Linked DNA regions of Homo sapiens. The protein of the gene in region 1 interacts with the protein of each later gene in a pairwise test. Each region holds a gene or a part of one and is shown in the gene's direction. Other genes may lie near its edges.

Region 1 (7,032 bases):
TTGAAAGCCACCATCATTATGAGATAAATTATATAATAGTACTTTACATAGGCTCCAAAATACAGCACAGACACAGCTATCATTGTCATGGTCATCATTATCATCATGATCACCAACTTATGAGGATAAGCAAGAACACCTACTAGAAGTTTCTTTCCATTCAGCAACAAAATTGGTGTCTTTCTAGTCACTCCCTTCCCTGACTGTCACATAGCAGTTCACAGAGGCTCAGTTGCAGAATGAGAAGCTCTGGGCCAGGACCTGCCATTGTATGCATCCTTGCATGGGAACTGGGGGCTGGAAGAGGAGTGACTGCTTGATAATTATGAGTCAGTCAAAACCACCAACTGTCTGAAAAAAATAGGCCTTTTTGTAACTAGTATTGTCACTAAACCAACTCCTCCATGTTTTGTGCATACATGAAATCTAGGCAATACACTTGTATTCCCAAAAGCTTCCACTTGAAGAGATCTGTGCTCTTTCCAAATATAAACCTTACCCGAGAGGTGGTCATCTTGGCCACACCTCAGAGAGGGAGAGAGGCAGTCTTGTTGGGTTGGGTGGTCATAATGGGGCTCAGGGCCAAATCCCCAGGGGGTAGGATAGTGCAGAGAAGATGGCACTCTCCAGTGCTTAATAAAATGCACGTGGTCTAAGCTGCCCACTCCCTCAAAGGCAATAAAAAATAGGTACTATTTAAATTGAAGAGTAACTACTGCCCCAGGGAATGGACAGGTTGTCATTGGAATAGCCATGGTTAATGGTCCCAGTTGACAACTGAAATGAATGTGCTACCTGAACAGGAAAGCTTATTAACCAGATTTCAAAGACAGTCTTTCCCGGTAAATCCAAATTTACAAATTAAAGCCAGTAAAGACACCGAATTCTCTAATAATATGTGGGGTGCAGTATATTTTAGAGCTGGGAATAATTCCAAACAGCAAATAGTTCAAAATTTATTTTCAATTTAGCATATGCATGCATTTGCTTAAACTGTCTTAAAAATGAGTAAAAAATACTGTCAGTTTGTTTCAATCATACTGAGATGAGGAACAATGTTTAGCATTGCATGCTAGAAAAGGACACAGGATTGGGAGTCAGGGCTGGGTGACCGTCACAGGACTTTCACTAACTGTGTGGATCTTGGGCAAGTCTGTGTGCCCTGAGACTCAGTTATTTAACTTTCTTTTAAAAAACATAGTCCAGATGCAGATAACAAAGCCTGCCTCTAATTTCCCTTACAGAATTGTGAGAAGCTGGTGGAGATGTTTGTTACAAAAGTGTTTTGAAAATAGAGCAAATATTATTCTTTTTAAGGCATGATGTTTTCATAGCATGTCAGGCAACAGGAAAAAACTAAGTTAGGATTTTATTTTATTGTGGGGAATTTATGTGCAAATTATTGTGCAATTTAATGAAAATAAGCCAATGTTTTATACAGAAGTACCCAGAAAATTAAATAACACTATACATTGTTCAAATAGTTGCCTTAATATATTTTATTTTCTCAGCATAATTAGAGTTGTATTATACAGGTCTTTGAGTAGTCAGTCAGTGGGAGAAGTTAAGACAACAGATATCTTTTTATTAAAATTATTATATGAATTATCGCAAATTAATTTTTATGGTTCTGTCACAGGATGTCTGACTCAACTCTATGAAAACGCCTTCTTCAGAGGTGGGGATGTAGCTTCCATGTACACCCCAAATGCCCAATACTGCCAGATGAGGTGCACATTCCACCCAAGGTGTTTGCTATTCAGTTTTCTTCCAGCAAGTTCAATCAATGACATGGAGAAAAGGTAAAAGTTGGTATTTCATTATTGGAGAAGCTGTTTTTCAAAACTGAATCAGTTTTGTGCAGAAAGGTGTAGTATAACTGAGAGTTCTTCCTCACACGGGGTTCAAGGACCAGCTTCAGCAAAATCCCGTCAAGTGGTTCTTACAAATGCAGATTCCTAGGCCACAACCCAGATCTGCTGAACCAAAGTTTCTTGTGACCAGGAATCTGCATTTTAAACAATCACTGTGTTTCTTTAAAGTAGTAGAAGCTAGTCATTTTCTATTCAAAGCCTCAAAATGCTTGAATATCATTGGGCTAAGGGATTGTCTCAAGAAAGAGTCTAACAGGTGCACATTTCATCTGAATAAAGAAACAGATTTAACTGTGTGACCCATGATCACATTAGCGGATAGCACAGTCCAAAGAAAATAACATAAGACAAGCATTTTGCTGAGAATGTAATTGAGAAAGATCTAGAACTTGTGATTTTGGGACAGGGCAGTTCTAAATGGGGCCTATAGTGAGCCAGTTTGGGCACCTGTGGCATGATGCTATGTATGGTGTGTGTGTGTATGTGTGCTTGTGCTTGTGTGAATATGTATTATTAACTGGAAATTTGTAAAAGTATTGGAAAAATAGTACTTACGATTTTGTGTGTGTGTGTGATGGAGTCTCGCTTTGTAGCCCAGGCTGGAGTGCAGTGGCGTGATCTCGGCTCACTGCAACTTCCACCTCCCAGGTTCAAGCGATTCTCCTGCCTCAGCCTCCCAAGTAGCTGGGATTACAGGCACGCACCACCACGTCCAGCTAATTTTTGTAGTTTTAGTAGAGACGGGGTTTCACCACATTGGCCAGGCTGGCCTTGAACTCCTGACCTCGTGATCCACCTGCCTCTACCTCCTAATGTGCTGGGATTACAGGCATGAGCCACCGCACCCAGCGGTAATTACAATTTTTATTAGGTCAGAGAGATGCTTATTAATCACGAGCCACAGTTTCATCTTAATGATTTTTCCTTTTGATTAATATCCAGAGTAAGCTTTTCTTTGTTGTTCCCATTTCCATGTTCATAACTCTTTACTCATCTTCACTCTATGTGAGTTTACCAACTAGAAATTGGATAGTCATTCTCTGATCCCACATGTTAAACTTGTAGAGAAAACTCAGATTGTATGTGAGGATCATCATATTAAAAGTGGAGGAAGGTTCTAGAATTCTTATAAATAATGAAATTAACATGAAGGTGGACATCTAAGACAGAGGGAAGTCTTCCATTAAGTGCAGACTACAAGGAGTTAATAAGCAAGATGAACACGATATACAAATCCAGCTCTTATCACTAAGTTAACTTTTTAAGTAAATGAAAGTATTTGCAAAAATAATTACCAATTGAGAACATAGTTGCCTGAAAGTTTAAGAACACAGGAAAAATCATTAACTCTTTAATATGGTTGATTTCCTGTACTTAAAAAATGTGAGTGTAAAGAAAACGCAGTGATGGAGTTAGATATTATGGGGTGTTATAAAATTAGCTCTAAGAGTGTTCTTTCCAGCAAGTATTGGGGAAGCTATATTATTTTCCTTATTCCTGGTTTTATTTGTTAGTGTGTAGAAAATGCTAGACATTTCCTCAATGTATGTTTATTATTCTACTTCCTAAGTAAAGCTACTTTTAAAATAGGTTTGGTTGCTTCTTGAAAGATAGTGTTACAGGAACCCTGCCAAAAGTACATCGAACAGGTGCAGTTTCTGGACATTCCTTGAAGCAATGTGGTCATCAAATAAGTGGTAAGTTGTGAATTTCTTAGCTACATTTGAGTTAATATTGGATCTCGCTTAGAACAGCTTTTGCTCAAAGTTTGTACTGCTACAGCTTTTTGGAAGGCATCACTCATAAAGATAGGAGATGGGGCAGTATTCTGGACACAAAAGAGGGACCCATATTCATCTGGACACTTCTATTGTCTTTATAAATCAACACATACTTAATGAGCCTCTATTATTTATGAGGTTAGCGCTCAAGTGTAAGATTTGCAGAAAATGAATCCAAATAATTGTGTCTCGTTTCCAGATAAGAATTTTTAAGAAAACACAAGGGAACATCTCTCTCAAGTTCACTTGAGGGTAATTTTTACATCAGTGATTCTCAACCAGCAGTGATTTTGTCTCTTCCACTGGGGACATTTGACAATGTCTGGAGACATTTTTGGTGGCTACAACTAGGGAGGATGCTATTAGCATTTACTAAGTAGAGGCCAGAATGTTTGAATGCTGACCAACATTCTACAAGGCACAGGGCAGTCGTCCACAGCAAATAATTTTCTGGCCCAAAACGTCAACAGTGCTGACATCAAGAAACTCTGTGATATACCACTAGGCCCAAATTGAAGAACTGAGTTCTGCAAATCTTGCTAAGAATAATACTTCCTAAAGGAAACTTGAGGACTAGGATGCTAGAGAACTTTGATTCTGACATCTGAAGCTACTGATGTCTTGGGAAACAGTTTCCAATGCTATCCTAATAAATTTAAGACAAATGAACTATTTCTCAAACATGACTGGGACTGATAAGAAAGTGAAAAGTGCTGAAAAGATTCAACTGATGGGTTGTCAGAATCTTAAAATAACTGCTGTTATTCTATGTATGACTATATATCATTACTATTTTATTTTCATTATGCACAATTAATTTTGTAGGTTCAAATTTCAGATGTTTTTAAATTTGTCATCCTTTCCTCCCTCATTGATATCACCTCTTCAATACGTACACACTTTGAGCCTGCTGTTTGCATTTTAACCAGTTATCAAAGGATGGCAATGCCTTCATTATAAATGTGGGCCTGACTTAGCCAGTATAATAGGTGTAGTCTACGTGAGGTGGAGTACATTTCCTATTTTAAAAGATCAATTTTTATGTTAATCCAATTTGGTATAAATTATTCGAGTAAGTGCTATTTCTGATTGTTGTATCTTGTAGCAAAATTTAAAGAAAAAGTAATTTGTGCCTTTCTCAATATTCCTGTTATTGTTCATGTATTCTAAAACTCACTGTTACTCACTTAGCTTGCTTTTAATGTTTTTTAAAGTGAAAAATTGTTCCCAAGTACATAAAATCTCTACACTCAAGAACAATTCTAGTCAAAAGCATTTAGAGCTTCCGTATGAACACTTAAAGAGTTTTTATTTGTAAGAGTCGCATCCCAACTCTTAGCCTGTTCTTTTCTCACATGCAGAAAAATAGGAAAGAGACTTCGTTTCCACAGTCTGCAAATTCCTGTGTTTAAGAACCACAGTGAATAATCCACCTCCCTGCCCAACTCATCGTACTGTCATATAGTTTTCCTGACAGTTTGTGTATTTTCTGTCTTTCCCACCCTTAAATTTAGTTTTATGACTTCAACCATACTTCTTAGGAGTGGAAAGGTATCTGTAGTAGATTATGGTTTATTCCACATAATCTTGGGGAATAAAACTTTAAAAAAGTATACAGTTTATACTTCTGGTTACATTACTTCCTTAACCAAAAGTCTAACCAAGAAATTTGAATCTTTAAAAAAAAAAGAGGCCGGGCGCGGTGGCTCACGCCTGTAATCCCAGCACTTTGGGAGGCCGAGACGGGCGGATCACGAGGTCAGGAGATCGAGACCATCCTGGCTGACACGGTGAAACCCCGTCTCTACTAAAAATACAAAAATTAGCCGGGCGTGGTGGCGCGCGCCTGTAGTCCCAGCTACTCGGGAGGCTGAGGCAGGAGAATGGCGTGAACCCGGGAGGCGGAGCTTGCAGTGAGTCGAGATCGCGCCACTGCGCTCCAGCCTGGGCGACAGAGCGAGACTCCGTCTCAAAAAAAAAAAAAAAAAAAAGAGCCTAATTTTGCTTCACTGTCTGTGAAAAGAATTATCTGTATCTTTTGCATGTAAGACAAATCTCAATGAAAAGGGTGCTTAAATAGAAGTTAACACTATTTTAAAGCAAGAATGGAAGTGGTTTCATCATGCGTAAACAACAACTCTCCACATTTTGTAATGATTGATCTGGATGCAATTTGTCATCAGACAGGAGAAGTCGAAAGCAAAGAAATAACACTGGGAGATAGAGAAGCTCTTTCATTCAATGCGAAAGGTCAAAGGCACATCAGTTTCTTTAATAATGCAAACCTCAGCACACATTATCAGTGTCCTCATTATTATTGCCTTGTTTATTTCCCACTGCTCATTGATAATTTCAACGTGAAATTTACCTGTATTGCTGCATGCATCTTGCAGTTTAAGAAGTGAAGTAACCCAATTTCAAAGCTAGTGCTTTAGGGAAAATATTGGATTGTATTTACTTCAAGCAGAGTTCGATAATTTATGTACATAATAAAAATTTTAAATCCCTTAGTTAATATAGCAGTTGCCAAAACTGGGCTATTATCATTCTAAACTACCAACCCAAATGGTAGTGGGTATCTAATCTACCTCTAGAAAGAAAATGGACTGTATTTGCTCTATGTATTTTTCTTGTACAGCTTGCCATCGAGACATTTATAAAGGAGTTGATATGAGAGGAGTCAATTTTAATGTGTCTAAGGTTAGCAGTGTTGAAGAATGCCAAAAAAGGTGCACCAGTAACATTCGCTGCCAGTTTTTTTCATATGCCACGCAAACATTTCACAAGGCAGAGTACCGGTGAGTACAATTCAAGGTGTGTGTTCTTTGTATTGGTGCCTCCAGGATTTCACTGTATTCTTCTTAACCTCTTTTGTTCCCAAACTAAAAACCAAACAGGGCTTTTATTCTAACCACTTTCCTCATTTACTTACTCTATTTTATTTTTTTATCTTTTATTTATTTATTTATTTATTGAGATGGAGTCGCGCTCTGTCGCCCAGGCTAGAGTGCAGTGGCGTAATCTCGACTCACTACAACCTCCGCTTCCCGGGTTCAAGCGATTCTCCTGCCTCAGCCTCCCGAGTAGCTGGGATTACAGGCGTCCGCCACCATGCCTGGCTAATTTTTGTATTTTTAGTAGAGTCGGGGTTTTACTATGTTGGTCAGGCTGGTCTCGAACTCCTGATCTTGTGATCCACCCACCTCAGCCTCCCAAAGCGCTGGGATTACAGGCATGAGCCACTGCGCCTCGCCCTTCATTTTTTAATTAAATAATTCATTTAATTTCATTTGTTTCTCTACTCTTTTCCCCTGGCATGTAATTGTACCGCATCTTCAAAGCCTGACATCCTCTTCCCCTACTTCTCCAAAGCTGAT
Region 2 (6,620 bases), on another chromosome or scaffold:
TTTTTTTTTGAGACAAAGTCTTGCTCTGTCACCCAGGCTGGAGGGCAGTGGCATGATCTCGGCTCACTGCAGCCTCCGCCTCCTGGGTTCAAGCGATTCTCCTGCCTCACCTTCCTGAGTAGTTGGGATTACAAGCACCTGGCTAATTTTTGTGTTTTTAGTAGAGACAGGGTTTCACCATGTTGGCCAGGCTGGTCTCGAACTCCTGACCTCAAGTGATCTGCCTGCCTCGCCTCCCAAAGTGCTGGGATTACAGGCGTGAGCCACCGCATCCAGCCCTTATTTATTCTTTTAAATAAATAATGGTTTAGTAATCTTACTTTATATGAATCTCACTCCATTTCAACCTATTGACATTCCTTGGACCTTGACGATCCTGGATGGAGTTTAATGTACAATTGGCCAGTTATTTGGCTTTTGATGGCCTATTTGAGAACTGGATCCTGAAAAGACAATTTCCAGTGTCAAGGAGTACAAAGCATGATGTAGTGGGTTCTGTGTGAAGCTCTAATGGAGTTTCGAGTTGCTCTTTTCCTGCCAAGAGGCAGTTGTGGAGAAAGGAGATAACTAGTTTATTTTATTCATCCTCTCACCTGAATTGACTGGCAGTAAATATGGTCAGTATTAATACATGTGGTTGGCCATTTCTATTTAGAACTTGTAGACAGGAGTGAAGATCAGGGTTTTCTGTCAGGGGATTCGTGTTGCCACTAGAGCCTTGGGAATCTTCTCAGTGTTTAAAATGTGGGAATGAGCTGATTTATATCAGGGAGCAAGCTATGGTAAGCCAACTTTTGTAATGGTGATTTCTTATGCATTTTCTAGATGAGGAGAGGATAAACAGACACATAGAGTCTCTATTAATCAATTGAGCATTTATTGAGTAACTTGCATATTCTGCATTTTAGAAGATGCAGAAGTAGTCATAGTTTCTGATCTTAATGAGATTAGTTAGTTAGACAAGGCAAACATGATGCATAAAACAATAGTGTATCAGGCAATGCTAAAGTATAACTGTCAGAAGAGTTCAGAGAGGAGGAAAACCAATAAATCCAGTTGTTGTTGTCAGAAAATTTTTTTGTTTGAAGTGAGAGTTGAGTGAGCACTGGTAGAATGGAGAGGATTTGGACAGGAAGAGCAGAGGTAGGCATACCTTGGATGTGTTTATCTCTTTACAGGGAATTTAAATTCACTTTTTAAAGGAAAATGTAATATGTACACATGATAAATTCAAATTGTACAATGAAAAATGTGACTATTCCACCCATTCCAGTTGTCTTCTCTTACTCTCGAAAGTCAATCACCATTACCAGTATATTTTCATAAATACTTTATTAATCAGTATAAATATATACATATACATCCCTTTTTAAAACACAAATAGAGGCAAGCTATATATATATACTGTTCTATACCTTGATTTTACTACTTAATATCTTTCCATACTGGCACATAGAGATCTTTCATTTTTATTTCGAGAGACAGAGTCTCTGTGCCAGATTACAGTAGCATAATCACAGTTCACCATAGCCTTGACCTCCTGGGCTCAGGTGATCCTCCTGAGTAGCTGGGACCACAAGCGAGCACTGCCACTACACCTGGCTTTTTTACTTTTTGTAGAGATGGAATCTTGCTATGGTTGCCCAGGCTGCTCTCAAACTCCTGGGCTCAGGTGATCCCTTGCCTCGGCATCCCAAAGTGCTGGGATTATAGGTGTGAGCCACTGCACCTGGCTTTCACATTCTTTTCATAGTTATTTAATATTCTACTATACAGGTATACCATAATTCATTGTAACCTATTGTCTATTCATAGACATTTATTATTATTATAAATAATAAAATGCAGTGAAACTCTTTTTTTTTTTTTTGAGACAGAATCTCACTCTGTCTCTCAGGATGGAGTGCAGTGGTGTGATCTTGGCTCACTGCAACCTCCGCCTCCTGGATTCAAGTGATCCTTTTGCCTCAGCCTCACAAGTTGCTGAGATTACAAGTGTGTGCCGCCACACCTGGCTAATTTTTGTATTTTTAGTAGAGACAGGGTTTCACCATGTTGGCCAGGCTGGTCTTGAACTCTTGACCTCAAGTGATCTGCCTGCCTTGGCCTCCAAAAGTGCTGGGATTACAGGCGTGAGCCACCAAGCCTGGTGAAAACTCTTATATGTACATATTTACATACTACTGCAAGTCTACTTGTAGGATAAATTCAAAGCAGCAAGGGACTTCTGATCATCAGCTATGATAAGGTTGGATGTGGTAAGGGTTGGTTTTTACCTGGTGGTGATTTGAAGGGGTTATAGGAGCATGATCCATAGGAGCTATTTCTTCATTGGGACCTGTCCAAGTTACTCAGACAGGTGGCTACCACAGGCTGAACATTACCATCTTTCTTCTTTAATTTTTCCTTCCATGTAGACAAACCTACCTATCTTCAAGCTAAAGGAGTCCTGCGTACGGCGGCGCTACAGTGACTTTGAGTGGCTGAAAAATGAGCTGGAGAGAGATAGCAAGGTATGGCTTTGTTCTCTGTGTGGCATCTTTGGAGGAGGAGCTCTGCATAGGCTGAGTGGGCATACAACCACAGTCTATAAAGTCTTGAAGGGAATGAAGAGGGTGAACACATTCTTATCCATCAAATCTCAGTATTTTAGATCGGGGGGATACCTTTTGAAACTTGAAAGTGGTAAGTTCTGGCTGGGCACAGTGGCTCACGCCTGTAATCCCAGCACTTTGGGAGGCTGAGGCGGGCGGATCACCTGATGTCAGGAGTTCAAGACCAGCCTGGCCAACATGGTGAAACCCCGCCTGTACTAAAAATACAAGAATCAGCCAGGTGTGGTGGTGGATGCCTGTAATCCCAGCTACTTGGGAGGCTGAGGCATGGGAATTGCTTGAACCTGGGAGGCAGAGGTTGCAGTTAGCTGAGATCGTGCCACTGCACTCCAGCCTGGATGACAGAGCAAGACTCTGTCTCAAAAAAAAAAAAAAAAAAAAAAGAAAGTGGTAAGTTCAGGACAAGTTTTTTTTTTAAAGTATTACTTCACTTAGTCGCTAGTAAAGTTGTACAACTTAATTCCTGTAGGTGCTAAAAATGGAAAGTCTAGTGTCAGGAAAATCCTAGCTAAATTCTTGAATGGTAGTGGCTTGTTAAGGAAAGTGAGGATTATTTGGAGTTTATTTCCTTCTTTTGAGGTGGTAAACCTGTCTTCCCACAGAAACGGATTAATTTTTGACCTGAGCCATCCTGACTGTTCTTATGGTCTTAGTTCTTGCAAGTTGCTGGCTGTGGGACAGGATGGACCCTATGCCTAATAAGAAATGAGGTACACGGTGCTTTACCATCTCATTCCCACTCTGTCTCTCTCCCATGTGGCTGGAATTTTGTGTGTGCCTGCAGATTGTAGTACCACCACTGCCTGGGAAAGCCTTGAAGCGGCAGCTCCCTTTCCGAGGAGATGAAGGGATCTTTGAGGAGTCTTTCATCGAAGAAAGGAGGCAGGGCCTCGAGCAGTTTATTAACAAGTAAGCCAAGTTCCTGGGGGCTCCACTTGCTACTTTTGCCATCGTAGTCTTTCTATATGTTTTGTTTACCTCACCTTTTATTTTATTTTTATTTACTTATTTATTTATTTGAGACAGAGTCTCACTCTGTCACCTAGGCTGGAGTGCAATGGTGTGATCTCGGCTCACTGCAACCTCCGTCTCCTGGGTTCAAGTGATTCTCCTGCCTCAGCCTCCTGAGTAACAGGGATTACAGGCGCCGGCCACCATGCCCAGCTAATTTTCATGTTTTTAGTAGCGATGGGGTTTCACCATGTTGGCCAGACTGGTCTCGAACTCCTGACCTTAAGTGATCCACCTGCCTTGGCCTCCCAAAGTGTTGGGATTACAGGCGTGAGCCACCGCACCCAGCTCACCTTTTATAATGGGTACCATGATGTGGTGCCAATTGTGTGGTGGGCTGACTGGACAGTAAAACTCCATTCCTTTGAGTAGGATTCTGATCCTGTGTGTCAGGGCCTGAGAAAGCACTGCATGTTGGTTATATCTAGGGATTTCCCTGTCTTGCCCCTCTATCCCCCGTCCCCTTTACAATATTAGGGTTGAGGTGGTACCCTACTGCTGTCCTCTACTGGCTTGAACCTCAGGGCTGACCTTGCCCTTCTTCCCCTGTCCACATCCCCATCCCTCTGCTAATTCTCTCTGATTCTGAATACTACTGATAACCATCCTGGTTTCTTTATAGAATTGCTGGGCACCCACTGGCTCAGAATGAACGCTGCCTACACATGTTCCTGCAAGAGGAGGCAATTGACAGGAACTACGTCCCGGGGAAGGTGCGCCAGTAGGAGCCCCTCTCACCACCTGCCCTCTACTTTCCTGCTGAAATGACATTGGTTTTTACACTAAGCCTCTCTCTGTCTTTGATCTGAAGTTGGCTGCCCATCTCCTGGCCTGATAGACTGTCTGGCATTGTGCTCCCTGGTACCTGACTACACCATGTGGGCACTCTGCTAGGATCCTCTTCTCTGAGGAGAGGTGGGAACCCACAGGCAGATGCCCTTTGCTTGGGGTTGGGGTGGGTGGGTGGGGGGATTAGACTGGAAGGCAATTTCTTGGGCATTTACCCATGCCAGAAGGCTAACCTGGGGGGAGGGGGGCGCTTGTGCTGGTGAGGCACTTGGATACATACTGATGCTGCAAGTTCAGGGGATTTTTCTTACTCTTAGGTTTAACCAAGAACACTGAGCAGGGAAAAACCCTGCCTTTCCTAACTGCATGTATTTTTTCCTTTTTGGAAAGGTGGTAGAGACTCAGAAGCTTTCCTTGTTTTCTTCAGGCCTGCTCCCAGTTTTCTTAACAGTTTCTTTTGTTGCTTTCTCTCTCCCTTGTTGCTTTCCATGGCAGTAATCCTCCTAGAGTCCAAGCAGTCTGTTGTATGGAGCAGGGTGTGTGGGTTTTCTGGGCCCATCATTATGGCTGCTTCAGAGTCAGAAGAAAGCCATAGGGCAGTAGGGGAGCTCCTATTGCCTAGCCCCTCTCCCTTTGTGGCTCCCACTCTAGCTGCCTATTTTTGCTCATCAGCTGGTGAGTCAGTATGGGCCAGCAGTTCTCCCTCCCTAAGCCCTTGCTACTTTATGGGTTAGCTTTGCAGGTTTGGTGGCTTGAGGGGTGGGGGCAACTCACCACTGCCAGGTAACTCCCTGAAGGGTGGGAGTGGATTATCTTCTAGGCTCTTACCCGCGGTAGGGAAGGGCATCAACACTGTCTTCCTTCCATTCTCCTTTCCCCCATCCCATTTAGTGCTGCCACAGGGCAGAAGCACACAAACCAACCACACAGTCTCTGACTTCTCCTAAGCACTTTGAGTTGTTGAATGGGGCTCAGGGGCAAGAGTTTTTGCTGCCCTCCCCAGCGTGGTCACAGGGTTATTGAACTGCCTGCACTTGTTTCTCATGCAACTCCAGCATTTTCCCCAGAAGTTGAACTATGGATAGCAGCTTGGTATGGATTTCCTAAATCTTAACATTTGAAGCAGCTTCTTGAGGCTGGCAACTATCCTGGTTTCTGTCTTGGAGGGGGTGGTTTGTTTGCTGGGGCCCAACGTCTGTCCCAAGTGGTGGGGTGAGAGTAAGTTAACTTTGGTGCCAGGTGAGAGGTGGGGGCTCTTTGCTTAGACTCCCTATCATGGAAAGATTGGAGTTTTCTATGCAGGGCACTGTGGAAAAGGATTGCTGATTCTGACTGACCCTGATCAGAGAGATTAGGATTGTATTTTGACATAGGATTTGGAACCCATCTAAATGTTGAAGTTCCCTGAGACAGCTCTCCAGCTGCTGAGCCTGCGCCAGGGGCTAAGCAGCCCCTAATGAGAGGCTCTGCTCCCTTTCCCACCTCGCCAATGTTGTTGTTGCTGCCTTTTTGATTTGTATCCTCTGTTATAGACATTTTTTAAAAACGATTTCCTCTTTCATTGTGCACAAGTGCTGAGAGTCTGAGGCCCCATTTCTGCTGTGTATATATATCCTGACTCGGGGCTTTTATTCAGCAAACTGTTCATTCTTCTGTCAGACAATGTCATATTCAACTCTGTTCATATTAAACCACTGTGAAGCAAGCCTCTGTTTTCCTGCTTAAGTTGTAAATTTAGTATTCTTTAGTGTCTAGGATATGCTGGGTATTATGCAGAAATCATACAGTGTGGCCAGTGTCCTGAGGTAATGTTTTGCATTTAAATTTTTTTAGAAAGCAGAATCTTAACTTATCTTAATGATATTTACCTATCCTTTTTGCAACTCACAACTGACTTTGTCACAGAGGTAATGCATCTGCTTGCAGGAAGTAGCTGTAGGCTCAGTACCTGTTGTTTGAGTCAGATTTAGCAGATTTGGTTTTTAAGCTTGTGGGTTTGTGCTAATTTGGGCAGAATATATTTATTATATATGTGTGTGTGTATGTGTGTATGTGTGTGTCTGCATATGTAATACATGTACATAAACACACATGCATGTGTTCATCCTCTGACACACCCACACAACACCAACAAACATTTCTTCTATAGGCTTTTTATCTCAACTGACACTGTTTTTTTTCCCAAATAAATTTGACACAGGCAGA

What was found. Proteins that work in one complex are often made in the same cells at the same time.
Region 2: the proteins of KLKB1 (region 1) and SNX12 interact in binary tests that used the Homo sapiens proteins (3 or more experiments, as listed by UniProt).

The regions. Positions count from the first base shown.
Region 1 is NC_000004.12:186,230,488-186,237,519, forward strand, and holds part of KLKB1 (plasma kallikrein isoform 1 preproprotein), read left to right. Parts: intron 1-1,639; coding exon 1,640-1,802; intron 1,803-3,464; coding exon 3,465-3,571; intron 3,572-6,293; coding exon 6,294-6,453; intron 6,454-7,032. UniProt on the Homo sapiens protein: Participates in the surface-dependent activation of blood coagulation. Activates, in a reciprocal reaction, coagulation factor XII/F12 after binding to negatively charged surfaces.
Region 2 is NC_000023.11:71,058,747-71,065,366, reverse strand, and holds the end of SNX12 (sorting nexin-12), read left to right. Parts: intron 1-655; exon of another isoform or gene 656-779; coding exon of another isoform or gene 780-782; intron 783-2,417; coding exon 2,418-2,513; intron 2,514-3,399; coding exon 3,400-3,524; intron 3,525-4,248; coding exon 4,249-4,351; 3' UTR 4,352-6,120; downstream 6,121-6,620. UniProt on the Homo sapiens protein: May be involved in several stages of intracellular trafficking.